Homo sapiens: one gene and its partners. The protein of the gene in region 5 interacts with the protein of the main gene of each other region in a pairwise test. Each region holds a gene or a part of one and is shown on either strand. Other genes may lie near its edges.

Region 1 (3,968 bases), on a different chromosome or scaffold from region 5:
TATTATTATAAAACTTCAATTTATAATGGCCAAAGGCTATAATCTTTTTGAGGTAGCTTTTTTCAGTGTTAGTTCTGAATATGAGCTTTTGCTATGCTTGAGATACACGCAAGTATTAGAAGAGCATCTCATCTGGAATGATGCACAAAAATTGATTATAAAGGTTGCCTGTGGGAACCTGGGTGGTTAAGGATAGGATTGAAAGTGGGACACTTCCTTTTCTCTGTATAGCTTGCGTACTTTGTACCGAGTACATGCATTACTAGTTCAAAATTTTAACATCGTAAGTGAATGAAAATTTAAACAGGCCGGGCACGGTGGCTCACACCTGTAGTCCCAGCACTTTAGGAGACGAAGGCCAGAGGATTTCTTGAGCCTAGGAGTTTGAGATCAGCCTGAACAACATAATAAGACCCTGTCTCAACAAAAAATACAAAAATTAGCTGGGTGTGGTGGCATATGCCTGTAGTCCCAGCTATTCAGGAAGCTCCATTGCAATCTAGCCCGGGTGACAAAAAAAAAAAAAAAAAAAAAAAAACCAATTCATTTGTTCTTCTTTAACATATATGTGTACCTATATGCATATATATACGTAAGTATTAGATTCATTTAAACTTACGTATTTTTCATCTGCCACATTTTTCTAAATACAAATCAGAAACAATGACAGAGCTAGTCTTTTATATTGCCTTAACTAATGAATAGTTGTAGGACCCCATCTGTGGAACTAAGATTGGTGGTAAGCTTAATTTTTTTCTTTCTTTATTTTCTTACTGGTCTCTTGATGTCAGGTTGTGCATCTTTGTGACTGTTACTATTTGGAGAATTTCCAGTAATGAATCCCTAATAGTGGTTTCATCTAGTTTCTCAATTAGCCCCTGTTTTTCTTCCCCAGGGACAAAAGTGGCTCTCAATCCAGCACATGCACATTGAAGCAAGTTAAAGGATTTAATATGAAGCACAGAAGCAGATAGTGCCAAATAGCAAGCAGTAGTTGTTACACATTTGTGAGTAAAAATGGTCCCTTTTGGCTTACTTTCTTAGTCTTTAAATCGTCTGCATGCCAAATCCTTAAAGATCTATGTCCCCAGAGATTTTTTGATAAAGAATAAAAGATGTGAGTTAGCAGTCATAGTCAAACCAGTTGCTGGGGCTGAGCGTCCTGAGCAACCTCTAAGAGCTCTCCTAGGCATCTCAGTGAGGCGGGGGCTTAGGGTGGGGCTATATCTCCAGCATGGAGTTTAGGAAATACCTTAGCCATGGTAAAGTCATGTATACTGTCTTTAACTTTTTATGTCTTTAATTTATATATAGTGTCTTTGCTGAAAATTTAGTGTAATTTCCATTTGAAGTTTACCCTAAATTTTGAAGTTTATTTTTATTTAAAGAAACCATTAGACGTCAAATATGTAGGCTGCCTCAGTTACATTTACTTTTTACCCTTTGTATTCCCTTCATGATTTATTCATTTGGGCTTAGTCTTAAAAAAGGATTTTTCCCCTTTGGAGTATAATGATTAGAGGAGTTTTATGGCAGTATTGTTTTCTTCGAATCTGACTTCACATTTGTATATACATTTGATACAGCTTCTCTGTATCCTGTTTGCAAAATCATAAGACAGTGACTGTGCTTACAACTGTCTTTATGATTTTTGAGGTATAGAAAAACTCTTCTTAGGATAGATTTAACAATTGGTTTCTCAAATCAAGCCCTAAGCCATGTTCAAATCCAAAAGTCATTTTACGTAGATATTTACTTTTATTCATAGTTTTCTTATGAAATGAATTGTTGAAATACTGATTTTTATTCTTTCTTTTTTACAGCTGGAAAAGCAGTGTCCGTGTTGTTATGTACACCTCCAAAAAAAGTTCAAATGTGTAGGGGAATTGTTGTGTAAAGTAAACTGAACTGCAGGGTAGCAGTATTTTAATAGCTATTATAGACCTGTATTTACTGTATTTAAATGAGTAAAGGAACAAGCAGTGACACATCACTAGGAAGGTCAGTGAAATTTTATTCAGTTGAGCTGGTATTATAGGTTTGAGAGACAATGGCTTTAAAGCTTACTGCCGTAGGCTAACCATGCTCTTTTACATTTTTATCAGCTTTTGTATTGGCGGCAACATTCTTTCTACTGCATTAAAAAAAAAAACACATGTAAATATGATATTAAATACAGATTAATAGTGTAAAACTTTCAGTCCCTCCAAAAATGAATACAAACATGAGGATTTATTATTACAAATTCTAAATTTGGTATTCATTGCATCTCAGTCATTAGGAGAAGTTTTAGTTTGTATGATGTGATTTTCAGGGAGTTGCATCTTCTTTTTTAGTAAATTCAGAGTTAATGTTATGCATCTGTCATTTAAAGGTTTTGAATAACAGATGCATTTGTCATTTAAAGGTTTTATTTTTTCATGCATGACAGTAATTTTTAATTTTATATTTTTAAAGTCCAAGCAGCTTTCCCTCAAATTGATGAGGAAATTTTAAGTTTAAATTTTATTGCAGGCATTTTTTTAGTTACAAGCAGCATGCATGTTTACGCAGAGAGTATGTGTGTATGTGTGTGTACACATTTGTGTTGTAATTCTATAATAATTTAAAAAATTTGCTCCTAAGCAATATCCTCAAGGTACAATTTCAGCTGATAATTAAGAAGGCATTTTGTTGAGGAAGACATTTTCTTTCATCTTTTATTTTTGCTTTGTATGTGTTCAGTACTTGCAAATGAGAAGTTTCCTTTCGCTCTTTCTATAAGGTATTGTCTTCTAACTTCACTGCGTAGAGGAGACTGACATTTTAACAGTCAGCCCTGTCTTTAAATTTTTCTCCCACAGGGTGAGCAGGGCAGCATTTCCTTCTCCCACTGCTGCTGAGATGGCAGAAATTAGTCGAATTCAGTACGAAATGGAATATACTGAAGGCATTAGTCAGCGAATGAGGGTCCCAGAAAAGTTAAAAGTAGCACCGCCAAACGCTGACCTGGAACAAGGATTCCAAGAAGGAGTTCCAAATGCTAGTGTGATAATGCAAGTTCCGGAGAGGATTGTTGTAGCAGGTATTTCACCTTTACTTAGAAGGTTGCCTGTTAAATCTTTGTTTTATATGTTTCTATGAAAACTTTTGAGTTTTTCTAAATGTTATTTAGAAAAGGAGTTGGAAAATGCAACTTTATACTTTTGAAATTTCTATTCATTATTATAGTCTGAATTGCAAACAGTATTTTTTAGTAATTCAACTAATTATTGAGGTTTTACACACATAAAATGTATACATTTTTAAGTGTGTACTTGATGAGTTTTGACAAAAGTGAACACCCATATAACCACCACCACAGTCCAAATAGAGACCATTTTTGTTACTCTGCAAGGTTCCTTTGTGCCTCTTTCTCACTCAGTCCCTACCCCTCAACTCTAGGCAACCATGATCTCCTTTCTATAGCCAGAGAATAGATTTGTCTTTCCTAGAGTTTCATGTAAATGGAATCATAGAGTATATACTCTTATCTGTCTTCTTTTGTTCAGTGTAATGTTTTTGAGATTCTTCTGTTGTTGCATATATCAGTTGTTCATTCAGTTTTATTGCTGGGTAATATTTCAGTTTGGATACACCATAATTTGTTTTTCCTTCATCTTCATTCGTTGATTGCTTTTTGTTTGAAGCTGTTAGGATTAAAGCCACTGTGAATATTCAGGTTCAAGTCTTTGTGAGGACATATGGTTTCATATCTTTAGGAGTGAAATTGCTGGATTATATACAAGTTATTTTCAACTTTGAAAAACTGCTAAACTGTTTTCCAAATTCTTGTACTATGTTGCATTCCATCAGTGATGAATAAGTTACAGTTGCTCCACATCCTTGCCAACATTTTGTATTGTCAGTCTTTTTAATTTTAGCTGTTTGAGTGGGCGTGTAGTGCCATCTTGCGATGTTAATTCTATTTCCCTGATTATTAATAATTT
Region 2 (3,968 bases), on a different chromosome or scaffold from region 5:
ATAGTCCCAGCTGCGCTGCTCAGAAGGCTGAGGTGAGAGGATCACTTGACCCCAGAAGGCCAAGACTTCAGTGAGCCATGATTGTACCACTGCACTCCAGTCTGATGACAGAGTCTAAGACCCTGTCTCAAAAAAAAAAAAAAGAAAAGAAAAGAAAAGAAAAGAAAAGACAAGACAGTGGGAGCTGTCCTGAGTTGCATCAATAAATGGACACCTCTTTTCTTTCTTTCTTTCTTTCTTTCTTTCTTTCTTTCTTTCTTTCTTTCTTTCTTTCTTTCTTTCTTTCTTTCTTTCTTTCTTTCTTTCTTTTTTTTTTTGAGATGGAGTCTCGCTCTGTCACTTGCCCAGGCTGGAGTGCAGTGGTGTGATCTCGGCTCACAGCAACCTCTGCCTCCTGGGTCCAAGCATTTCTCCTGCCTCAGTCTCCTGAGTAGCTGGCATTACAGGCATGCATCACCACACCTGGCTAATTTTGTATTTTTAGTAGAGATGGGGTTTTGCCATGTTGGCCAGGCTGGTCTCGAACTCCTGACCTCAAGTGATCTGCCCATCTCAGCCTCCCAAAGTGCTGGGATTACAGGTGTGAGCCACCACGCCTGGCCTGGACCTCTTTTGAGGGTTGTTTTTGTAATACACACAGGCAATCGGAAACTGTCATTCACTCATTCACTCATGTTTACCGAGTGCCTACCACTACCTGGCTGGTACTGTGCAAGCAAAGATGAGCAAGCCTTCCAGGAGCTTACAGATATAGTAGGTGAGGCAGACAAGTAGCCCAGCTATTGCAATGCTTTCCAACAGATGATAAGGAAGAGTTACATAATTCGGATTATGGGGACAGACAAGAGAAACATTTCTGGGCAGTAGTTTCAGGAGAAACTACGGTAGAGGAAGGGGGACATTTGGACTTCATATTTTGCTTTGCTTTTCCTATAGTCACAAAATACTTAATATTTAACCTCAGATCCACTCCTAAGCATACACTCAAGGGAAATGAAAGCTGAGACTCAACAGTATTATTCACAATTGCCAAAAAGTGGAAATAATTCAATTGTCCGTTGATGGATGAATAGATAAAACATGACACATATATATTATGATATATCATTATATACAGGGTTAGGGTTAGGCATGCAGCTCCTTGAGCAGGGACTAAAACACAGACCCAGGACACGATGTTCTTTTGCCTGCCTTATATAATAATAATAATAGTTCATATCACATTTTATGCCAAGTGAGATTCTAAGCACTTTAGAAATATTAACTCATTCAATCCTCTCAACAGCTCACGATGTAGGAATGCTTCTCATTTTAGAAGTGAGGAAACTGGCCGGGCTCGGTGGCTCACACCGGTAATCCCAGCACTTTGGGAGGCTGAGGTGGGCGGATCATGAGGTCAGGAGATCAAGACCATCCTGGCTAACATGGCGAAACCCCATCTCTACTAAAAATACAAAAAATCAGCCAGGTGTGGTGGCAGGCGCCTGTAGTCCCAGCTACTCGGGAGGCTGAGGCAGGAGAATGGTGTGAACCTGGGAGGCAGAGCTTGCAGTGAGCCGAGATCACGCCACTGCACTCCAGCCTGGGTGACAGAGCGAGACTCCGTCTCAAAAAAAATCAAAATAAAAATTAAAAAATAGAAGTAAGGAAACTGAAGCATAGAAAATGTGCATAATCTGCCGAGATGATCCAGTCAGTAAGTGATGGGTCTGCTTGCTGTTTCCAGAGCCCTTAACTACTACACCGTACTGCCAGATCTTAATTTTCATGTTCTACCCTCAAAGGTAGGAATTCTGTCCATCTCTAGTAGGATATATTGGGGAAAAAAATGCCCCCTATTCTTCACCCCTCCCTTATCCATGTCCGCTGTAATGTGACTTGGAAGTTCAGCCCATCAAGAGGCAAAATCGACTTTCCTAATCCATGAAGCTGGACTGGCCTTGCAGTCTGCATTGGCCAATGGAATGTGGTGGAAGGAAGAGGATCTGGTTTAAAGCCAACACTTCAAAAGACCTTTTCTGCTTTGCCTTTCTGAGAACCCTGCTGCTGCCATGTAATCAGGTCTAGGCTAGTCTACTAGAAAATGAGAGATCATGTAGTAAGAGAGCCCAGTTGTCCAGGTTGAAGCCACCTGCATTAGTCCATTTTCACACTGCTGTAAAGAAATACCCAAGCCTGCGTAATTTATAAAGGAAAGGGATTTGATTGACTCACAGTTCCACATGGTTGGGGAGGTCTCAGGAAACTTACAAACATGGCAGAAGGTGAAGGGGAAGCAAGGACCTTCTTCACAAGGCAGCAAGAGAGAGAAGAAGAACAAAGGAGGAACTTCCAAACACTTATAAAACCATCACTCACTATCATTAGAACAGCATGGGGGAAATCAACCCCATGACCTGATCACTTCCCTCCCTTGACACTTGGGGATTCCAGGCCCCTCCCTAGACACACGGGAATTACAATTCGAGATGAGAATTGGGTGGGGACACAGAGCCAAACCATATCACCACCCAAGACCAGTCTACATTTAACCAACCCCAAAATATGTAAAAGAACCCAGCCATGATCAGCCAAACTCGGCCCAGAGGCAGGATAATTTTTAAGGCTCTTCATACATATCAGCCAACTGCTTTCTAGGATGGTTATAAGGAAGAACAACATCATGACTGGAGGAGACAAAATAAGGTCAGTTGGCACTGCAGACTGTGGGAACAACATGGGCAAAAGAAAGCTGGAAGAGTGTGAGATATGCTCAGAGAACTATGAGCAGCCCATTTTGACTAAAAACCATTGTTCTTAAGGGGACTAGTGGAATAAAAGAACCTGGAGAAGTAAAGTAGACTGGCTTAGTCGTTTCTACCAATTTAGTAGGTGTTGAGAAGCCTTTGTATGTATAACATGTTCGTTTTCTCCTAACAGTACCATGCGGGTAATGTTATGATTTCCAGTTACAGAGAAGAGGCCCAAGGTCAGGATTTGAATATAGGCAATCTGGTATCAGAGCCTGCCTTATCCACTTACTGCAAAGCCGTAATGGAGAGACTAAAGGTGCAGAGAACAGCACTTTCATTGTTGTGAAAATACAATTAGCCAAGAAAGAAATTGTGAGGGCCTGACCTGAGGAAGTGTTAGTGGAGACCAACAGGAAGCAAGAACTGTGAGCAACACAGCAAGAGGAAGGGCTACAGGGCTTGGCAGTGGATTGAGTGGCCATGGCGAGAATGAGGGTAGTCACAGGGCAAGGCTAAGATGACAAGCCCAGGCAACTGCAAGAGGATGGGTGTCATCAGTCATCTCATTTGCAGAACGCACAAACCGGTTCCAACCAATGGATTCTGAAATGCCTGTGTGGGGTGAACACATGGAGAACTGCAAGTGCACTGCATGAAGCAGGAGTGAAGGCATGAGAAACGTGCTCAAGGTCATCTGCAGGGAGCTAAATCTCCACTTCCTCGTGTGTCAAATGAAGATGTTGTGCTAACCGCTCTTGGATTTTATCCAGCATTAACAGCAGATAAAACTCCTATCAATGACGATCCACTGAGTTTTGCTTAAAACTGATTTTTTGTTGGTATTCAATTATGAAGAAATGTAATTACTTAGATATTGTTTCACACCGTACTTGATTTTCACCTATTTGAGTTTCTACTGAAAATTGATTTTATTACTTTTGTACCTATAAGCTTCTAAAAATCTAATATTTAGTTTTTGCTTGTTTTTTTAGTTTTGTTGGTAAGACTCAAAATCAAAATTTAGAAAGAAAAGAGGAAAAGTAGCTAATATTTATTGCACAACTACTATGTACCTGGCACTCTGAATACACACACACACACAAATATATATTTCCTCCATAAATATAGTCTTGTGTCAGCCAGGCGCCGTGGCTCACGCCTGTAATCCCAGCACTTTGGGAGGCCGAGACAAGAGGATCACCTGACGGCAGGAGTTTGAGAACAGCCTGGCCAACA
Region 3 (3,968 bases), on a different chromosome or scaffold from region 5:
CTTACAGTATCAAATACCGCCTCAATGTTTTTACCTCATTATTCATACAAACTGTGTAATCAAAATGCAGAAACAAAACCAACTTTTATGTATCAGAAAACATACTTTTTAAAATTATGTGAATACAGCAAACCTCTATGAAATGCAATGCCTATGAAAAGAGAAAGACTTACTTATTTTTCAGTTCTGAAGTGGCATCCATGTCTTTAAACTCTCCTGCAATATGAACTATACCGTAACAGGTAACTGCAAAGGCCAGAAGTGTCTGAAGAACTATCTGTGAGTATAAAGATTGATAATACTAAATAACACAAACATTATTATAAATATTTACAATTTTCTCTCTACCTCTTCATTGCCTCTAACAGGTAGTCCTCTCAGGGCCACCATCAGGGAGACAATGCTCACTTGAAATGACTGGGATTCAGACACAATACAATCTATAAATTCTGTGGATTGGCTGCAAAAATACCTCTGATGCTTCAATAAATAAATCTAGTGTTCAAATAAGCAAAATCACTGAGTACTGAATGGTACTGAGCCACTCAGAACTCAATGATCAAATATTACCTGCTTCCAAGAGCAACTAAGAATTTTTAAGGTATTATTGTTTTTGTTTTTTTTTTGTTGTTGTTGTTGTTGTTTGCTTTTTGTTTTTGAGACGAAGTTTCCCTCTTGTTATCCAGGCTGGAGTGCAATGGTGCAATCTCGGCTCACTGCAACCTCCACCTCCCGGGTTCAAGCAATTCTCCTGTTTCAGCCTCCTGAGTAGATTACAGGCATGCGCCACCACGCCAGGCTAATTTTGTATTTTTAGTAGAGACGGGGTTTCTCCATGTTGGTCAGGCTGGTCTCGAACTCCTGACCTCAGGTGATCCGCCCGCCACGGCCTCCCAAAGTGCTGGGATTACAGGCGTGAGCCACCACACCCAGCCAGTATTATTGTTATATATCATAGAGTGCAGAAAGCATATGTACACAGCATAAAGCAATTAAAAGACCATGTACCCACCACCCAGCTTAAGAAATAGATCATTCCTAGTACCTTTCAAGTTCCACATGTCAATCTCAGATGATATCCTTTACCTTCCCTCTCAAAGTTAACTATGGTCCTGAATTATATATTACTCAGTTTCTTGTTTTTCTTGATAATTTTACCAGCTATTAAATATATATGAATCTCTAAAACATATATGCCTTACTTTTGCCCATACTGAACTTTATTTAAATGGACTCAAATGTATTCTTTTGTGTCTAGCTTTCCTCGCTCAACATTATGTCATTGTGTGTGTGTGTGTGTGTGTGTGTGTGTGTGTGTGTGTTTTCTTTTTTTGAGATGGAGTCTTGCTCTGTCACCCAGGCTGGAGTGCAGTGGTGCAATCTCGGCTCACTGCAACCTCAGCCTCCCAGGTTCAAGTGATTCTCGTGCCTCAGCCCCCAAGTAGCTAGGATTACAGGTGCCCGCCACTGCACCCAACCGATTTTTGTATTTTTAGTAGAGATGGGGTTTCACCATGTTGGCCAGGCTGGTTTCAAATTCTGACCTCAGGTGATCCGCCTGCCTCAGCCTCCCAAAGTGCTGGGATTACAGGCATGAGCCACCGTGCTCGGCCAGTTTTCACTGTGCTTTGTATTTCATGATATGAAAATACCACAATTTATCCATTCTGCTGTTGTTATTGGATATGTGGGTTGTTTCCTGTTACCTTCACAATCAACATGAATATTCATATGCATGTCGCCCAGTTCACACATGGAAACACTGAGTGTAGAGTATGCACATGTTCAATTTGATTGAGTAATATCAACTGCTTTCCAAAGAGGTTGAGCGAGCAAAAACGCAGAATGTTTTATTTTAACCAACATGGGATTATGGGCATGTTCAGATTATAGAAAAAAGTTCTTTAAAATAGACATAAATATGTGTATGTGTGTGTGTGTGTGTGTGTGTGTGTATCTACCACAAAAAAAAGGTGATAGGAGTTAACAGCCTCATCAATCATATATTTAATTACAGACAAAGTCAAAATTAGCCACAATCTATTTTCCTGTTTAAATTAAAATCTAACATCATATACGATACCAATTTACATTCCCACCACCAGTCTACCAAGAACACTTGGTTTTTGTTTTTGAGATGGAGTCTCGCTCTGTCACCCAGGTTGGAGTGCAGATCTCGAGTGCATGATCTCGGCTCACTGCAACCTTTGCCTCTCGGGTTCAAGTGATTCTCCTGCCTTGGCCTCCCGAGTATCTGGGATTAAGGCGCCCACCACCATGCCCGGCTAATTTTTTGTGTTTTTAGTAGAGACGGGGTTTCACCGTGTTAGCCAGGATGGTCTTGATCTCCTGACCTCATGATCTGCCTGCCTTGGCCTTCCAAAGTGCTGGGATTACAGGCGTGAGCCACCATGCCTGGCCAGAAGACTTGTTTTATATAACACAGTCACAGGCACTTTTAACAAGAATCTATATGAGCTGTCATGAAAGTAAGACTGAAGTTGTTAAGTAATAAAAAAGTTAATTATAAAACTATACATATATACACATGTATAACTTTTTAAAGAAAAAATAATACGTGTTTGGATTAGGTAAAACTACACATACATAATGCTGTTTGTGTATAGGAAGAAGACTGAACTACTGCTATACTCCAAACTGTTGGGAGTAGAAGTGGAACTGCCAAGGAACGGGGCCAGTTCTTCTGTTGTTGGTGTTTTTATAATTGTGTAGGGTCAGTTTTAGTTTTTACTGTTTGACTCTGTTACAAAGAACTTACTACTTGTGTAATTTCAAGTCTAGTAAAGATAAAAATTGTGAGTGATGCTGGAATACTTATCATTTTAGTTTTAAAAAACACTTTCCTGGTCGGGCGCTGTGGCTCACACCTGTAATCCCAGCACTTTGGGAGGCTGAGGCAGATGGATCACCTGAGGTCAGGAGTTCGAGACTAGCCTGGCCAACACAGGGAAACCCTGTCTCTACTAAAAACACAAAAAAATTAGCTGGGCGTGGTGGTGGGCGCCTATAATCCCAGCTACTTGGGAGGCTGAGGAAGGATAATTGCTTGAACCTGGGAGGCAGAGGTTGCAACGAGCCCAGATCGCGTCACTGCATTCCAGCCTGGGCAACAAGAGCAAAACATTGTCTCAAAAAAAAGAAAAAAAACTAAAACCACTTTCATTTTACCACCTATGTATGTCCCTAAACAATGTACTGTTGGCTTTATTTCCCTTACATAAAAATGAACTTTTCTAAGAAATAAAGCTAAATAATCAACTTTTTAAGTCCATCCCATACTATGGACAGAGCATCTTCGAGAAAGACTATTTCGACTACAGCTCTAGAAACCAAATAGAGAAACCTTTCCAAATCTTTGAGCTTTATGAGTGATGAAAAGTGGAGATCACAGGCCAGGCGCGGTGGCTCACTCCTGTAATCCCAGCACTTTGGGAGGCCAAGGCAGGCGGATCATGAGGTCAGGAGATCGAGACCATCGTGGCTAACACGGTGAAACCCTGTCTCTACTAAAAATACAAAAAATTAGCCGGGCATGGTGGTGGGCACCTGTAGTCCCAGCTACTCGGGAGGCTGTGGCAGGAGAATGGTGTGAACCTGGGAGGCGGAGCTTGCAGTGAGCTGAGATCAGGCCACTGCACTCCAGCCTGGGTGACAGAGTGAGACTCCGTCTCAAAAGAGAAAAGAAAAGAAAAGAAAAGTGGAGATCAGATTTTATTTCATGTCTGAAAAATTTTACGAAAAACCAGTAAAAAAAAAATTATTACAAGCTATGTGGCTGATTTTAAACATACATGTAACGGAATATAAATGACCAACTTACATCTATTGGCAGTGATTCATCTTCTTTTTCTGTTAATCGCATATAAGAACGATCTATAAACCAGAAGCATACCATTAAGGAAACTGTAGTTCATTTTTCTTTCTTAAAATGAAGCAAATCAATATAC
Region 4 (3,968 bases), on a different chromosome or scaffold from region 5:
TTAATCACTTATTCATTCTAGGGATTTTTTTGTTTTTGTTTTTGTTTTTGTTTTTGGCCAAGTCTTGAGATTTTTCTACATAAATCAGGCTGTCTGTTAAAAATACAGTTTTATTTCTTCCATTATTTTATTTTATTTTTTACAGAGGTGAGGTCTCACTATGTTGCCCAGGCTGGTTTTGAACTCCTGAGCTCAAGTGATCCCCCTGCCTTGGCCTCCCAAAGTGCTGGGATTACATTGTGTGAGCCACTGTACCAGGCCTCATATTTCTTCCATTCTAACTTTATACCTTTTATTTCCTTTTCTTGTCCTGTTATGCTAGCTTAGACTTCCATTACAATGTTGCACAGGAGTGGTTAGAAGGGACATCTTGTCCATTTCTGATTTTACTTTCTAACCATGAAATATGATATTAGCTATTTTTTGGTAGATATTCTTTAGCAAGTTGAGGAAGTTTCCCTTTTATTCCTAGTTTGCTAAGAGTTTTTCATATGAATCAGTCTTGGGTTTTGTCAAATACTTTTTCTGCATTATTGGTATGATCATATAATTTTTTCTTTAGCCTGTTGATATGATGACTTACATTAACCAATTTTTGAATGATAAGCCAGCCTTGCATATGTGTAATATGCCTCTCTTGGTTATGGTATGTAATTTTTTCTGTATTGTTGGATTATATTTGCTAATATTTTCTTGAGGATTTTGTATCTACTTTAATGAGTGATATTGATCTGTAGTTATCTTTTCTGGTAATGTCTTTATGCGGTTTTGGCAGTAGGATAATATTGGGCTTGTAGAATAAGTTAGAATGTGTTCCCTCTGTCTACTTCTACTTTCTGGAAGAAATTGTAAAAAACTGGCATTATTTATTCCTTAAATGTTTAGTAGGATTAACCAGTGAAACCATCCGAACCTGGTGCTTTCCTTTTTGGAAGGTGATTTTTTTCTTCTTCTTTTTTTTTTTTTTTACTAGTTATTGACTCAGTGTCTCCTTCCTTCCTTCCTTCCTTTCTTTCTTTCTTTCTTTCTTTCTTTCTTTCTTTCTTTCTTTCTTTCTTTCTTTCTTTCTTTCTTTCTTTCTTTCCTTCCTTCCTTCTTTCCTTCTTTCTCTCTCTTTCTTTCTTTCTTTCTTTCTTCCTTTCTTCCTTTCTTCATTTCTTCATTTCCTTCCTTTCTTTCTCCCCTCCCCTCCCCTCCGCTCCCCTCCCCTCCCCTCCCTTCCCTTCCCTTCCCTTCCCTTCTCTTCCCTTTCTTCCTGCAACGTCTTGCTTTGCTGTCCAGGCTGGAGTGCAGTGGTGCGATCATGGCTCCCTGCAGCCTTGACCTCCTGGGCACTAGCGATACTCCCACCTCGGCCTCTGGAATAGCTGGGACCACAGGCATGCACCACCATGCCCTGCTAATTTAATTTTTTTTTTTTTTTTAAGAGATGGAGTCTATGTTGCCCAGACTCGTCTTGAACTCCCTCGGCTCAAGTGATCCTCCCACCTTGGTCTCCCAAAGTGCTGGGATTACAGGCATGAGCCACCATGCCTGGCCCACTAAAGCACTTCTTTTTATGTTTCTCGCACAGCAGGTCTATTGGTGAAAGGTTTGTCTGAGAAAGTCTTTATTTATACTTCACCTTTGAAGGAAAATTTTTCTGGATATAAGATTCCATGTTGGTGTTTTTCTCTTTTTTAAGTTTCAATGCTTTAAATATTTCACTTCACTCTCTCCTTGCTTGCATTGTTTCTGACAAGAAGTCCAGTGTTGTTCTTGTTCTTCTATATGTAAGGTGTGTTTTTTTTCCTGTGACTTTTTTCTGTCTTTCTTTTCCCTCCCTCCCTCCCTCCCTCCCTCCCTCCCTCCCTCCCTCCCTTCCTTCCTTCCTTCCTTCCTTCCTCTTTCTCTCTTTTCTTTTCTTTTCTTTCTTTCTTCTTTTGAGATGGGGTCCCACTCTGTTTCCCAGGTTGGAGTGCAGTGGTATGATCACGGCTCATTGCAGCTTCACCCTAGTGGGCTCAAGCCCAAGTGATCCTCCCACCTCCGCCTTCCAAGTAGCTGGGGCCACACGCGGGTGCCACTAAGCATGGCTAATTTTTGTATTTTTTGTAGAGATGGTGTTTCATTATGTTGCCCAGGCTGGCCTCGAACTCCTGAGCTCAAGTGATCCACCTGCCTTGGTCTCTGAAAGTGCTGGGATTATAGGAGTGAGCTACCATGCTTGGCCATCTTTGTCTTTCTAAAGTTGAAATATGATATGGCTAGACGTGGATAGGCATATTTGGATATTTATCATGCCTGGTATTCTCTAAGCTTCCTGGGTCTTTAGTTTGGTGTCTATCATTAATTTTGGAAAATTCTCAGCCATTATTTATTCAAATTATTTCTTCTGCTCCTTTCTCTTTTCTTCTTCTTGTATTCCCATTATATATCTGTTACACCTTTTGCAGTATCCCACAGTTCTTGGCTATTCTGGGGTTTTTTTTAAATTCTTTTTTCTCCTTGTATTTCAGTTTGGGAAGTTTCTTTTTTAAAAATTGTTTGTGATAGGGTCTTGCTCTGTATCCCAGGCTGGAGTGCAATGGCGGGATCTTGGCTCAATGCAACCTCTGCTTCCCAGGTTCAAGCAATTCTTGTGCCTCAGTCTCCTGAGTAGCTGGGACTACAGGTGTGCACAACCATGCTGGCTAATTTTTGTTTTTTAAGTAGAGACGGGGTTTTGCCATGTTGGACAGGGTGGTCGCCAACTCCTGACCTCAAGCAATCTGCCCACCTTGGCCTCCCAAAGTGCTTGGATTATAGGTGTGAGCCACCACACCGTGCCCAGTTTGGGAAGTTTCTATTAACATCTTCAAGCTCACTGATTCTTTCCTTGTCAGTTTCTTTTTTTTTTTGAGACGGAGTTTTGCTCTTGTTGCCCAGTCTGGAGTGCAGTGGCGTGATCTCAGGTCACTGCAACCTCCGCCTCCTGGGTTCAAGTGATTATCCTGCCTCAGCCTCCCAAGTAGCTGGGATTACAGGCATGCGCCACCACCCCTGGCTAATTTTGTATTTTTAGTAGAAATGGGGTTTCTCCATATTGGTCAGGCTGGTCTCGAACTCCTGACCTCAGGTGATCCACCCACCTCGGCCTCCCAAAGTGCTGGGATTATAGGTATGAGCCATTGCGTTCAGCCTCCTTGTCAGTTTCAAGTCTACTGTTGAACCCACTGAAGGCATTCTTCATTTCTTTAATGGTGTTTTGAGCTCTAGCATTCACTTTTGGTTCGTTCTTAGCATTTCCATCACTCTGCTTATATTATCCATCTGTTTGTGCATGTTATCTGCTCTTTCTGTTAGTGCTCTTAACATTTTAATTATAGTTTTTTAAAATTCCCTATATGATAATTCTAAAATCTGTGTCATACCTGAGTCTGGGTCTGATGTTTGCTTTGTTTTTATGTATTTTTTAGCCTTGTAATTTTTTAGTTGAAAGAGAGATATTATGTATCAGGTAATAGGCTTTTATTATGCGGCCTTATGTTAATTTGGCTAGGAGCTGGGTTGTGTTTAATGCTTATTGTAGCTATAGGTGCCAGAGACTTCAGTTTCTCTAGTGTTTTTTTCTCTCCTTTCCTATTGTCTTTGGGTTTCCTTATGAACTCCTTAAATAGGTTCTGTGCCTTGTAGCTCTCTCACTTATAATCTTCTGTTATTATACTGGAGCCCTGTTGATGTGGTAGTAAAGTGTTGGAGGAGAATCTGTTTATACTTTTATGATTAAATCTTATTCTTTTAGTGGCCTGAGCCTCTGGACTGTGGCCTTCAGAAGTGTTTCTTAGCCTTTTCTCTTTCTCTCTTCTTAAGTAATACAGAAAGGCTATAGACAGCTGGAGTTGGCTAATTTTCTTCTCTCAGGTCAGATAAGGCTCTGACATCTTCCCTTGAGATGGAGGGAATAATCTAGGTATATTTTAAAATGATTACTTCTTTCCATCCCCCAG
Region 5 (4,587 bases):
GAGACGCCAAAGCAGACATACCTAGGAAAACCCAAACGTTCCTTGGATCCTGAGACAGCTGGTAAGCACCCAGGCCGGCTAGACTGCCAAAGAGCAGCCCTGCAGCCAGGGACGGCACGCTGCCTAGAGGGAAGCAAACACAGCTTGCATTGTAATGTCAGGCACTTATTTCACTAACGGAATCCCCCAGACCGCTGCCCTACAAAGGAGGACAGCACAGAGAACTCTCAACACAGCTCATAGCCAAGGTGGACTCAAGCAGGAAGACGTTACAGAGAGTGTGCTATCTTCTCAGAGAAGTCAGGGTCTTCCCACCCCATTTTTCTCTCCTCTAATAGGCAGGGCACTTCCATCTAAGGAAAGGAAAGAAGGCCATCTTCCCTCCTTAGATGGAACTGTGGCTAGGCCTTCTTTCTAATCAGGCCTGATCAACCATGAAGGACTGGAATTGTGTACAGGCAGGACCTCCAGCAAATCACAAAAGGAGAAGGAGATAAGGCCAGTCAATTAAAAAAATACAAAGACCTGGAGAAGAAGAATTCTGGTGCAGGGGTTGGGGTGGGAATGCAGGCAAGGACTAGGGGGCAAACACAAGCACAGCCACTGACACACCCCTGCCTGGCCTAACGAGGAGAGTTCAAAATACCAGTCTGTGTAGGCCAGAGGTTTCCTCCTACTTGAGCCCAGAGATGGCACTTGGGGGTCGTGGCTGATGAATGGCAGTCAACGATAATAACAAACTACAACCGCCCCTGCCTATCTGTAGATAAAGAGGCAAAAACAAGTAATTCCAAAAGAGGCCTGGCTCAGCTTCACCAGATAACCAAAGGGCAAGGGCAGGAGCTGCAAGACTGACAAGGAAGCCTGCACTCCAGCTTGGGGACCCACAGCAAACCTGACTCAAATGAGATTGCTTCTCAGGGACACGGGCATTCACATTTCACTGGGACAACGTGAAGATGTTAAGAGGCTAAGTAACAACAAAACCCTACCTGCTTTTACATAGCCAATGATCCCACCAGAAGCAACCAGTGCTGCGTAGCCAAAGCCAAACCAATGCAAAGGCACTCTGAAAACACAAGAGGGAGAAGTCAGTGCTAACCTGGCTTTGAAAACAAACCATACTGTCATAGGATGGGACTAAAAGGTAATCATTCCCCACAGGTCCTATCACTGAAAATAAGGACCACAGAGGTTGGATGACTTTCTGAGAGTCACACAACTCAGCAAAGCCAGAGCTGGGACTCAAACCCAAGTTTCTGGCCCACAGGTCCAGTGATCCTCCCATCCCCCATGCCATCCCAGGCAGTCTACTCTTAAGGTTCTTTTCAGCTAAGGAAAGGAACTCTGGTTTCCAGAAGCTCCTGGCTACTCCATACCCATTTACTGCACTCACACTGAGCCAGTGTCCTGCATTTTTCTCTTCTCTGTCCAGACAGGAGACTACCCCAGGCCTGCACCTGCAGAAAACAAGCTGGATCAGAGGTAGTTAAAAGCACAGCTCTCCAGCAGTCAGAAAGAAGTGTGTCCAACCTGCAAGCTACGCAACCTAAGTCTCAGTATTCTTCACTGTACCATGAGGATAACACTGGTACCGATTTCCTGGGGCTGTAGTGAGCATTCAATGGATGTCACATGTAAAGGTGCTTAGCACCTAGTAAACCCTGAACAGATGCTGACCATTGTCATGAAAACCTCAGTTTTAATCACATAGGCCCACGGGAAACTCAGCAAGATCCACTGACCAGCTCTAAAATCAGGGAATGTGTTAGTCATTTCATCAGCTACCCATGTTATCACTAAATTCAAAAGCAAATACTCCCGTGCCCTTAATCCAACTACTTTAATGTCTCTTTTGAGGGGAGGTAGGGGTGTTGCTTTTCATCCCTGCTGCAACAGCCAATTTCAAAGCTCAACTTTTTTAGAAACTTCTGCGTCCAACTCACAGTTCTTGTTAGGAGGGCAGTAGTAGGAGAGGATAAAATATACGGAAACAGTGGTCATATTCACATGTGACACTACACCCTTGGAAAAACAGCTTCTATTTTCTTACAGAAAGTATCCTGTGTCCAGTGAGCCAAAAGATGAAAGCAATGCATACCCCGTTTATTCTGTTTAAAGAATTAGGCCAAGCGCAGTGGCTGACGCCTGTCATCCCAGTACTTTAGGAGGCCGAGGCGGGCGGATCACCTGGGGTTAGGAGTTCAAGACCAGCCTGGCCAACATAGTGAAACCCATTGTCTACTAAAAAATATAAAAAAATTAATCGCGCATGGTGATATGCGACTGTAAATCCCAGCTACTTGGGAGGCTGAAGTGGGAGGATGGCTTGAGCCCAGGAGGCAGAGGCTGCAATGAGACATATTCAGGCAACTGCACTCAAGCATGGGCGACAGAGCAAGTCCCTCCCTCAAGGACAAAAAAAAAAAAAAAAAGAATTAAGTTTCCATAAAACAGGGAAGGGCAGCGGGCTTGGGATCTTGCCCACAGTTCTTAACTCGAGACGGCACCGAGTAAGGGAGGCTTTTAAAGAGATGGAGCAAGAAAATCACCAAGAAACGAGGCAACACTATGCTACATGGGTAAGCCTTTGCCTCAGGAGCCCAGGGGCTCCGCGCATCCACAACTTCTTTTAAAAGCAGAAAATACCCAACGAGAAAAGCACCGACCACACGGCCTGAAGGCCCGCTGAATCGGGGGGACGAAAAGCAGACGGCCGTGAAACTCCTAAATAATCCCTAAAAGTTAAAAGTGGCAGAAAATAAGAATAATCCCCAAATACTCGCACCGGTCTCACGAAGGCCCCGGCTGTCTACAAGGGCGCGCAAGCCGCAGGAATGACTGCGAGGTGTCGCCGGAAATGCAGCGGCGGGCGCTCTCCGTCCCGGTGGCGGGGCGAGGAGAGGGGAGCGGCTCTGTTGTGCCTGCGCAGTGTACCGGGAGAGGGGCGGTCAGAGAATGGGGACGGTGCGGGCGGGGCTTGAGCCGCCAAGTAGCAGCATGCGCCCTGCATTCAGCGGGTGGAGAGTGGGGCGGGGCATCGCGGCGAGCTCCTGAGTCCAGGGAACGCGGCGGGGAATCTCTGTGCTTCCCCTGTCCGCAGCGCCTGCAGGGCCGACCAGTATCAGTCCCAGGTCCAATCCTGAGTGGCCAAAAGCAGGAGACCCGGAGTTGGACCTGGGACTTGCACAAGCCGGACCACGTGAGCTCGGCCACGCCAGAGGTGAGGCCACCGCTGCGGGACCAGGGAATCTGAGGCTGGATTTTGAAGGACCCCATTAATAGAGGAACAAGTTACAGGGTATAAACCAGATGCAGGCCATCAGGGAGGAGTGTCACTCAAGCCCGATCTTGTCTACACCAGGAAGGGCCTGCCTGGAAGAAAATACGGGGGCTGCAGAATAATGTGGCTCAAAGCCAAATATCCGTTTGTTTTAGGGAGTGAGGCTGCTTGAGAAGCATCTTAAAGGGGGATGGGGAGTAAGTTAAACCTGATTTTTACCCAGCTCTGTGGACCCAAAATATCCACAGCATATTATCTCCATTCCCACTTGGAGTCACTCCTATTCCGTTTCCTGCACCACCATTCTCTTAGTTGCTCTACACTAAAATTTGCTGTCATCGTTGACTTCTCCCTCTCCATCCCCTACAAGTATCAACATACACAAATCTGACCAATATAATTGTCAGTGAATAAAGCGAATTCCAGCCAAGTTTTTTTTTTTTTTATGTGGAGTCTCACTCTATTGCCCAGGCTGGAGTGCAGCGTATGATCTTGTCTCACCACTACCTCTGACTCCCATGTTCAACTGATTCTCCTGCCTCAGCTGCCTGAGTAGCTGGGATTATAGGCCTGTACCACCACCCCTGGCTGCCAGGCTAATTTTTGTTATTTTTAGTGGAGATAGTGAGAGATCACAACGTGCCAGTGTGTTCAAAATTGATGGCTTCTTGGTCTGACTTGAGAAAGCTGCAGACCCTCGCGATGAGTGTTAGTTCTTAAAAGCAGTGTCTCTAGAGTTTTTCTTCCGATGTTTAGAAGTATTCAGGGAGTTTTTCTGCTGGTGGGTTTGCTGTCTCACTGGCTCAACGAGCAAAGCTACAGACCTCTGTGGTGGATGTTAAAGCTCTTAAGGCAGTGTGTCTGGAATTGTTTGTTCTTCCCGGTGGGATCGTGGTCTCCCTAGCTTTGGACTGGCTCAAGGAGCAAAGCTACAGACTTCTATAACGAATGTTAAAGCTCTTAAGGCAGTGCGTCTGGAATATGTTTGTTCTTTCCGGTGGGATCGTGGTCTTCGTAGCTTTGGGAGCAAAACTGCAAATCTTCGCAGTGAGCGTTACCACTTGTAAAGACAACACAGGACCTAAGCACCGAGCAACAGCAATATTTGTTGCAAAAAGAAAAAGAGAAAGAACAAAGCCTCCTCCACATAGAAGAAAACCCAAGTGCGTTACAACTACTGGCTTGGGCAGCCTGCTTTTATTCTCTTATCTGGCCCCACCCACATCCTGCTGATTGGTAGAGCCGAGTGGTCTGTTTTGACAGGGTGCTGATTGGTGCGTTTACAATCCCTGAGCTAGATACAA
Region 6 (3,968 bases), on a different chromosome or scaffold from region 5:
GATTCATGAATACTGAATTGAAATTAACATTTGCGAACAGGTCCCTTGGTTTCCATTGATCTATCACCCTGGATAAATCACTGAAGATTTTGTATTTTGTTTATTTATTTAAAGTCCTTCTGGCCAGAAATACGAATATATATTCTCCCACAGAGTGATTTAATGTTTAAAATATTGATTAGTTTCACAAACTGCACTACCAGCCTATGGTCAGGTGGGTAATACCAAATTAGTGTATGATGACATTCTGGAACAAAATAATAAGAGCATTATACATAACACAGTAAGACAGAGTGAACTGGAAATGTAATTATAGAACTGTTTTGTTATTTTAAAGGGGGATGGAATGAATTAATGAATGTTATTTTTAAAGGATTCTAGAAATTGTCTCTTTGTTTTGGTATCCCCTGAAATGTTTAAAAACTCAACCATTAACCCTCAGTATACCACTGGGTTCCACGGGTCCACTTTTAGTTTTTCAGTTCCTTTTCTGAGCAGTTCTCACTATTTGTATAAATTAGCATTTCATAATTTTTATCTTTTCTTAAGTCTTTCAAATAATGAGAAAATTTACTTATTTAAAAAAACAGAATAAAATAAATTATATTTTGCAATTACCAGAGAGGTCCAAAGAACCCTTTCATAAATCTAAGATATATTATAGGATTATTGCAGTATTTTTATATTTCCTGTATCTTGAAACATTTTGCCATTTCATCATCCTAGGAATTATTTCATCATTACTTATCAATTATTCCCTTTTGTAATAAAAAGAAATTAAAATAAGAAAATGATCTGAAAGGATGATGCAATAACTTATCATTGTTGAGCTTCTTTACTGTGCTGTACAAAGTATCATGTCACCTCCAGAAAGTATAAAAGAAGACTGAAAACACCATTTTTGTAACCTGTTTTTAGTTTTCATTTTCTGCCTATCCAGTATTTGCAAAGTGGAGACAACTGACAGAGGAAGACATCTTGCCACTGTTAAAGAAATCAAAAGATGAATGGTGTGGTAGGCTAAAAAATGGCCTCCCAAAGATATTCACTTTCTAATTCCTGGGACCTGTGAATATTACTTTCTATGACAAATGAGTGAAAATTATCTTATATGGAAAAAGATGTGATTAAGATAAAGGTTTTGAGGAGTTTATTCCAGATTATCCAGCTGGACCCTAAGTGTAATCACATGCATCTTTTTAAGAGAAAGGCAGAGGAAGTTTAGAGAGAGAAGAAAAAGCAACATAACTATGGAGGCACAGAATGGCATGGCGTGGCCACAAGCCAAGGGATGCCCACAGCCACCAGAAGCTGGAAGAGGCAAGAAATGGATACCTAGAGTCTCTGAAGAAATCACAAATCTGACACCTTGATTTTGGATATGTGGCCTCCAGAAATGAAAGAGAAGTAATTTCTGTTGTTTTAAGTCACCCAGTTTGGATTACTTCTTATGGTAGTCTTAGGAAACTAATACAAATGCAGAGACACATTCTAGAGTCTAGATGATAAAATCGATCATATGTGAAATCTCAGATGAGTCTTCAGCAAAACATATCCTAGGTGAATTTTCTCAAACTTAAGAATCAGTCAGTAAAAAATATATTTCTAAGCATAGAAAGGAAAAATGATTTTATCATAGAGTTAATCATTTCAGCAGGGAGAACATACACCCAATATTTTACAAGTATCTAGACTATCTTGTGTTGCTACAAGGATGTAACTATACTCTCTCAGCTTTTTATGTTTGTGAGTCAAACATTACTTGATACAAAGATGGTTACCATGCTTACATTCTTATTAAAATTTTAAAGTTGTTTTACACAATCCCTTTTAATCTTACTTTTAAAAATTACTCATAAAGTGATTTAAAAATATTCGTCTGTGGGTGTATGTTTGCATGTATGAGGGTGTCTATGAAACCTAGATGGTCAATAGTGATTTAAAAAAATGTTCTACATGCAGCCACTCTGGATTTTATAAACTGGTCTGCACAGCATATGGCAACATTGTAATCCCAGTGGTGAACAGTAGCAGTAGTAGCAGTAGCAGCAGTAGCAGCAGTAGCAGCAGTAGCAGCAGTAGCAGCAGCAGCAGCAGCAACTCTCTCAAATTGGCTCAAAGTGCTAGTCTTCTCAGAGGTGTCTATCCAAACACTGCTCTACAGAAGCCAATTTTAAAGCAAGTTCTGGCCTATTCACTATCCAAGAACCTTTTGTGGACATAGCACTGTACCAAATACTATAGAACTAAGATATCATTTTTATTAAAAAAAGAAAAAACAAGGAAATCTCCCATAAAAACTGACTGTCCTAGGGATTATCTTTCACTTCAAATCTGGACCATAATATTATTTTACCGATCTGTAATTTCTCAATAACCACAAATGCAAGTTTAGAAAATAATACCTTAATCTTACGCATGAACAAGACACACTACGGTTCTAGTCACCAAAGTCTTTGTTTCCCTTTGACTCAACGCAAGAGCTTCGGCTTTTGAAAATAGCAGCACATGGCCAGGCGTGGTGGCTCACACCTGTAATCCCAGAACTTTGGGAGGCTGAGGCAGGCGGATCACCTGAGGTCAAGAGTTGGAGACCAGCCTGGCCAACATGGTGAAACCCCATCTCTATTAAAAATACAAAAAATTAGCCAGGTGTGGTGGTGGGCACCTATAGTTGGGCTACTCAGGAGGCTGAGGCAGGAGGATCGCTTGAATCTGGGAGGCGGAGGTTGCAGTGAGCCAAAATCGCACCACTGCACTCCAGCCTGGGCAATAAGAGTGATACTCCGTCTCAAAAACCTAAAAATAAAAACAAAAATAGTGGCACACAACATCTACTTACATTCAACTACATCAATATTAGTACCATGAGAAACTGTCATCTGTAACTTACTAAAGATTTAAAAATTTACTAAAATTTCATTTAGGATACTTATAGACTATAGGATGTTTTTTCCTTTAGTAATCCCACCTTCTTTGTTGTGGTTCTTAGAAGGCTAAAACTATGACATTTCTTATATAATACTGAATATGAAAAAGCGTCTTTCTCCAGTTTCCACTAGGACAAAATTAAAATCAAATTACTTTTCTTTCTTTTTTTTTTTTGAGACGGAGTCTCGCTCTGTTGCCCAGGCTGGAGTGCAGTGGCGCAATCTTGGCTCACTGCAAGATCCGCCTCCCAGGTTCACGCCATTCTCCTGCTTCAGCCTCCTGAGTAGCTGGGACTATAGGCGCCCACCACCACGCCCAGCTAATTTTTTGTATTTTTAGTACAGATGAAGTTTCACCGTGTTAGCCAGGATGGTCTTGAACTCCTGACCTCGTGATCCACCTGCCTTGGCCTCCCAAAATGCTGAGATTACAGGCGTGAGCCACCGTGCCCGGCCTCAAATTTCAACTGAGGTACCTAGTACTTCTACCTTATAATATGAATTATTCATATAAAAGGCTACAAAGGCATAAAAATGTTCCTCTGGCAAACTTATGTTACAGAGAATAAAATGTGCTACAAATCAAGGCTTAGTTTAATCTTAAATAAAATCTCTGTTATCTCCCTTAATGACCTTATTAATGGAAACCTGGAACCTCTGGTTATCAGCTACTGATGGCATTCTTTTAAGTAGTTAATTAATAAAGACAACTCTAAGTCTAATAGCATATGGTCCAACAACAATTACAAAAGTCACAAGGACAACCACAAGACTCTTTCTTAAACACTCAACAGTTTATTAAAAACCACAATCAAGCATTTCCGCTTTAATAAATTGTTATATAAACATTCTGATGTTGTGGTTTACCCTGGCCTAATGAGGCATTCTGATTCATTTCTAGTGTAACAGAGTAAGATAGAAAACTGAGTCATTAACACAGCATTCCCTTGTGAAAAAAGACAAACCAGGATGATTAAAGCAATGTTGAAAGGGCTGAAAACCCTGAAATTGGACATATTTTTTTGCCCTTTTATCTGT
Region 7 (3,968 bases), on a different chromosome or scaffold from region 5:
CTATTCTAACTAAAGGAAACACAGTTTAAAAAGAATGCAATATAGTGAAGTAGTTAATAATAAAGACTCCATTTTTAAAAGTCTGCTGGAAGTTTGGTTGGGATTGCACTGAATCTATAGAGCAATTGGGGAGTATTGACATATCAACAATATTGAGTTTTCTAATCCAAGAACATAATATCTATTTTTAAAATCTTCTTCAAAATCTTTAAATCTTTAAATTGTATTTTGTAGTTTTTGGTGTTTAAGTCTTGCACATATTTTGTCAGATTTATTCCAAAGTATTTCACGGGTTCTTTTTTTTTTTTTTTTTTTTTTTTTTGAGACAGAGTTTCACCCTTGTTGCCCAGGCTGGAGTGCAGTGGCGTGATCTTGGCTCACTGCAGCTTCTGCCTCCTGGCTTCAAGTGATTCTCCTGCCTCAGCCTCCCAAGTAGCTGGGATTACAGGCACCTGCCCCCTCGCCCAACTAACTTTTTGTGTTTGTAGTAGAGACAGGGTTTCACCATGTTGGCCAGGCTGGTCTCGAACTCCTGACCTCATGTGATCCACCTGCCTCAGCCTCCCAAAGTGCTGGGATTACAGGCATGAGCCATCATGCCCAGCCCTATTTGACGGTTTTTGACGCTAATGCAAGTGGCATTTTAAAAAATTTTATATTTCCCATTGTTTGTTGTCAGTATATATTGGATTTTTGTAATTTGATCTCATATTTTGCAGTCTTGCTAAATTGCTAAACCTCTTTTTGCTAAACTCGATAAGCTTTTTTTTTTTTGGTAGATTCCTGGGCCTCTAATTTTCTTTATGGGAAAGTTTTTAATTACAAATTTAATTTCTTTAATAGCTACATGGCTATTCAATTTACTTATTAATTCTTGGTAATGTGTGTCTTTCAAGGAATTTGTCCATTTCATCTAAGTTGTAGAATTTCTTTGGCATAAATTTGTACATAACATTCCCTTATTATCCTTTTAATGTCTTTAGAATGTCTTATTTATTTATTTATTTATTTTTATTATATTTTTTTGAGACAGAGTCTCGCTCTGTTGCCCAGGCTGGAGTGCAGTGGCACAATCTTGGCTCACTGCAAGCTCCGCCTTCTGGGTTCATGCCATTCTCCTGCCTCAGCCTCCCTAGTTGCTGGGACTACAGGCGCCTGCAACCATGCCCAGCTTATTTTTTTTTTTTTTTTTTTTTTTTTTTTTTTTTTTTTTTTTTTTTTAGTAGAGACGGGGTTTCACCCTGTTAGCCAGGATGGTCTCGATCTCCTGACCTGGTGATCCGCCCGCCTCAGCCTCCCAAAGTGCTGGGATTACAGGCGTGAGCCACCAAGCCCAGCCTATTTATTTATTTAGTAGAGACAGTCTCACTTTGCTGCCCAGGCAACAAAGGTTTTGAATGCCTGGCCTCAAGCAGTCCTCCTGCCTTGGCCTCCCAAAGTGCTGGGATTACAGGCATGAGCCACTGCACCTGGCCAAATGAATATGCTGATAATATCTTCTTTATAAGGATGACATAAGAATAAAATAATGTAATACAAACAAAGCCCCTGTCACTGAAAATGTATAGACTTCAAATGTTAAAGTCTTAGAGAACAGAATTTATATGAAATAGCAACAGCAACAATTTCCCAGAGGAAATACTCTCTCAGCTTTCTTCTGAGGAGCAGTTTCTAAATTGAAATTGTATCAGTGAGAAGATAACTATACTAACTTCATAAGCCTTGGGCCTTTTTGAAACAAATCCATATAAACTATGAACAAACTTGAAATAGAACAATTTGAGAACAGGGTACAAACTGCATTGGTGTATCAATTTCAGTATTTGGTTTTAGCTTAAATAGACTGACTTGAGATAACATAAGGAGAACCTTGACCCCCAAGCAACATCATCTCGCGAGTTGACTAGGCCGGGTGTGGTGTCTCACGCCTGTAATTCCAGCACTTTGGGAGGCCACAGCAGGCAGATCACTTGAGGTCAGGCATTCGAGACCAGCCTGGCCAACATGGTGAAACCTCAGCTCTACTAAAGATACGAAAATTAGCAGGCATAGTGGCCTGCACCTGTAATACCAGGCACTCGCAGGAGAATCCCTTGAACCCGGAAGGCGGAGATTGCAGTAAACCATGATTGTGCCACTGCACTCCAGCCTGGGCAACAGGAGACTCTGTCTCGGAAAAATAAATTTTTTAAAAAAATGAAAAAAAATAAAAGTTGACTAAATTAGTGTCTTGGTACTAAGCACTGTAGGAAGTGAGTTTCATGGAACCCCAACTCTCTTGGGGCCCAAAGCAAGTCATATTAATATTGAAAATTACATGCATATACATGCATATGACCAAGGTGATAAAAACAATTATTCTGCCTGAGTTGGAGAATAGTATCCCAGTAAAATAAACAAGAGTCTCAAAGTCTTTTGTATCCTTTGAAGCTGTCATGGTGGTTTGTAACTAGGCAACAGGTATATATTGTTAATCTTCTTTGCATTTAATTCCTTTTATAGAGAGACACAATTTTACGAGCAGATGCAATTACTAGCATGAAGGTTTCTTTGTGAGGGTAGTTAAAAGGCCCACATGAGCTCTCTTCTTATCCTTGTCCTTCTTTCAGCCAGATCTTCCCTGCCCCTTTGCTCATTCCATCTTTCACCCACCTACCCCCAAAACAAGGAAGTAAATCTTGCATTAGTCAACAATACCAAAGTGATTTTCAATATGACTTTCTCTGCAGAATGTTATTATTTCTGCCTCTTTACATTCACATACTGTCTTCCTTTTTTTTTTTTTTTTTTTTTTTTTTTTTAGATTGGGTCTCACTCTGTTGCCCAGGCTGGAGTGCAGTGGCTTGATCTCAGCTCACTGTAACCTCCACCTCCTGAGTTCAAGCAATTCTCCTGCCTCAGCCTCCTGAGTAGCTGGGATTACAGGCATGTGCCACCACACCTGGCTAGTTTTTTTGTATTTTTAGTAGAGACAGGGTTTCACCATGTTGGTCAAGCTGGTCTCGAACTCCTGACCTCATGATCTGACCACCTGTGCCTCTCAAAGTGCTGGGATTACAGGCGTGAGCCACCGGGCCAGCCACTCTCTTCCTTTCAGTTGCCTACTCATCTCTTATGCATTCCTGGACATCAGTTGTCCTTTTGAAGCTTTCCTCCACTATCCCAGCCCATGTGAATCCTCCTTCCAGTTATAGCCCTTAATTCTAGATGGCTGATATTTTTCAATAATTGTTTTAAGATGACCATTTTAGCCTATCAGCTAAACAATATCAAAGACAATAGCTATTTTTCAAGTACTTTAGTTTACCTTATTATAGAGTGCATAATAGATATTCAGTAAATAGTAAAGGAGAGGTGAAGGCTTGCATAGAATGGATTCTGGTGGTGTCTCTTGGTGAGCTTTTAGCATCAAGATTAATCAGCAGTTTCAGCAATGAGCTCAGACCTTCAGTTTTAGATCTTTACTCATATCAGATAAGAGAGTGAGAAGAGTGGTATGTATCAGTGCTTTATTTATATTTGCATCCAATTTGAACTATGAATATTACAAAGGTGCACACATAGGTTCAGACAGATTGATTTAAAATGACCAAAGATGACCTGTCGTAAGCAACCTGGGTATCTTAAGATGCACTCCTTGGAGAGGGAATGTTCCTAAAAACATTTTCAGAGGGACGAACTGTATGAAATTCAGTAAAACATAAATCATGAGGAAAACTGATTACTCTCTTTTTGACATGAAATGAGAGTTTTAATGCATGGTTACGATTATTAACGTACTCCGCTGCAAGACGTTAATAAAGTTACTGTTTTGCAGGCTAGAATGTCTTGATGCTGTAATCAGAACACACTTTTTCCCCTTTCTTCCAGCTTCAAATGCAGATTCATAATTGGGCTGACTTCTAATAACTGCAATGTTTTCTGCCTTGGGCTTGCAGCAGAAGCCTGACAAAATAGTGTTTGTTTAG

Evidence for each region.
Region 1: the proteins of TMEM14C (region 5) and MFF interact in binary tests that used the Homo sapiens proteins (3 or more experiments, as listed by UniProt).
Region 2: the proteins of TMEM14C (region 5) and SLC10A6 interact in binary tests that used the Homo sapiens proteins (3 or more experiments, as listed by UniProt).
Region 3: the proteins of TMEM14C (region 5) and MMGT1 interact in binary tests that used the Homo sapiens proteins (3 or more experiments, as listed by UniProt).
Region 4: the proteins of TMEM14C (region 5) and NCR3LG1 interact in binary tests that used the Homo sapiens proteins (3 or more experiments, as listed by UniProt).
Region 6: the proteins of TMEM14C (region 5) and GORAB interact in binary tests that used the Homo sapiens proteins (3 or more experiments, as listed by UniProt).
Region 7: the proteins of TMEM14C (region 5) and HSD17B13 interact in binary tests that used the Homo sapiens proteins (3 or more experiments, as listed by UniProt).

The regions. Positions count from the first base shown.
Region 1 is NC_000002.12:227,327,783-227,331,750, forward strand, and holds part of MFF (mitochondrial fission factor), read left to right. Parts: intron 1-895; 5' UTR 896-1,007; intron 1,008-1,823; exon of another isoform or gene 1,824-1,963; coding exon of another isoform or gene 1,964-2,001; intron 2,002-2,843; coding exon of another isoform or gene 2,844-2,883; coding exon 2,884-3,064; intron 3,065-3,968. UniProt on the Homo sapiens protein: Plays a role in mitochondrial and peroxisomal fission. Promotes the recruitment and association of the fission mediator dynamin-related protein 1 (DNM1L) to the mitochondrial surface.
Region 2 is NC_000004.12:86,842,569-86,846,536, forward strand, and holds part of SLC10A6 (sodium-dependent organic anion transporter), read right to left. Parts: intron 1-3,968. UniProt on the Homo sapiens protein: Transports sulfoconjugated steroid hormones from the extracellular compartment into the cytosol in a sodium-dependent manner without hydrolysis.
Region 3 is NC_000023.11:135,967,217-135,971,184, forward strand, and holds part of MMGT1 (ER membrane protein complex subunit 5), read right to left. Parts: intron 3,895-3,968; coding exon 3,842-3,894; intron 278-3,841; coding exon 174-277; intron 1-173. UniProt on the Homo sapiens protein: Part of the endoplasmic reticulum membrane protein complex (EMC) that enables the energy-independent insertion into endoplasmic reticulum membranes of newly synthesized membrane proteins.
Region 4 is NC_000011.10:17,361,685-17,365,652, forward strand, and holds part of NCR3LG1 (natural cytotoxicity triggering receptor 3 ligand 1 precursor), read left to right. Parts: intron 1-3,968. UniProt on the Homo sapiens protein: Triggers NCR3-dependent natural killer cell activation.
Region 5 is NC_000006.12:10,721,443-10,726,029, reverse strand, and holds the start of TMEM14C (transmembrane protein 14C), read right to left. Parts: upstream 2,961-4,587; 5' UTR 2,789-2,960; intron 1,475-2,788; exon of another isoform or gene 1,461-1,474; 5' UTR 1,417-1,460; coding exon 1,397-1,416; intron 1,070-1,396; coding exon 993-1,069; intron 124-992; coding exon 22-123; intron 1-21. UniProt on the Homo sapiens protein: Required for normal heme biosynthesis.
Region 6 is NC_000001.11:170,545,527-170,549,494, reverse strand, and holds part of GORAB (RAB6-interacting golgin), read right to left. Parts: exon of another isoform or gene 3,704-3,968; intron 1-3,703.
Region 7 is NC_000004.12:87,305,739-87,309,706, reverse strand, and holds part of HSD17B13 (17-beta-hydroxysteroid dehydrogenase 13 isoform A precursor), read left to right. Parts: intron 1-3,968. UniProt on the Homo sapiens protein: Plays a pivotal role in hepatic lipid metabolism. In vitro, it catalyzes the oxidation of a variety of lipid substrates, including 17beta-estradiol, retinol, retinal, and leukotriene B4.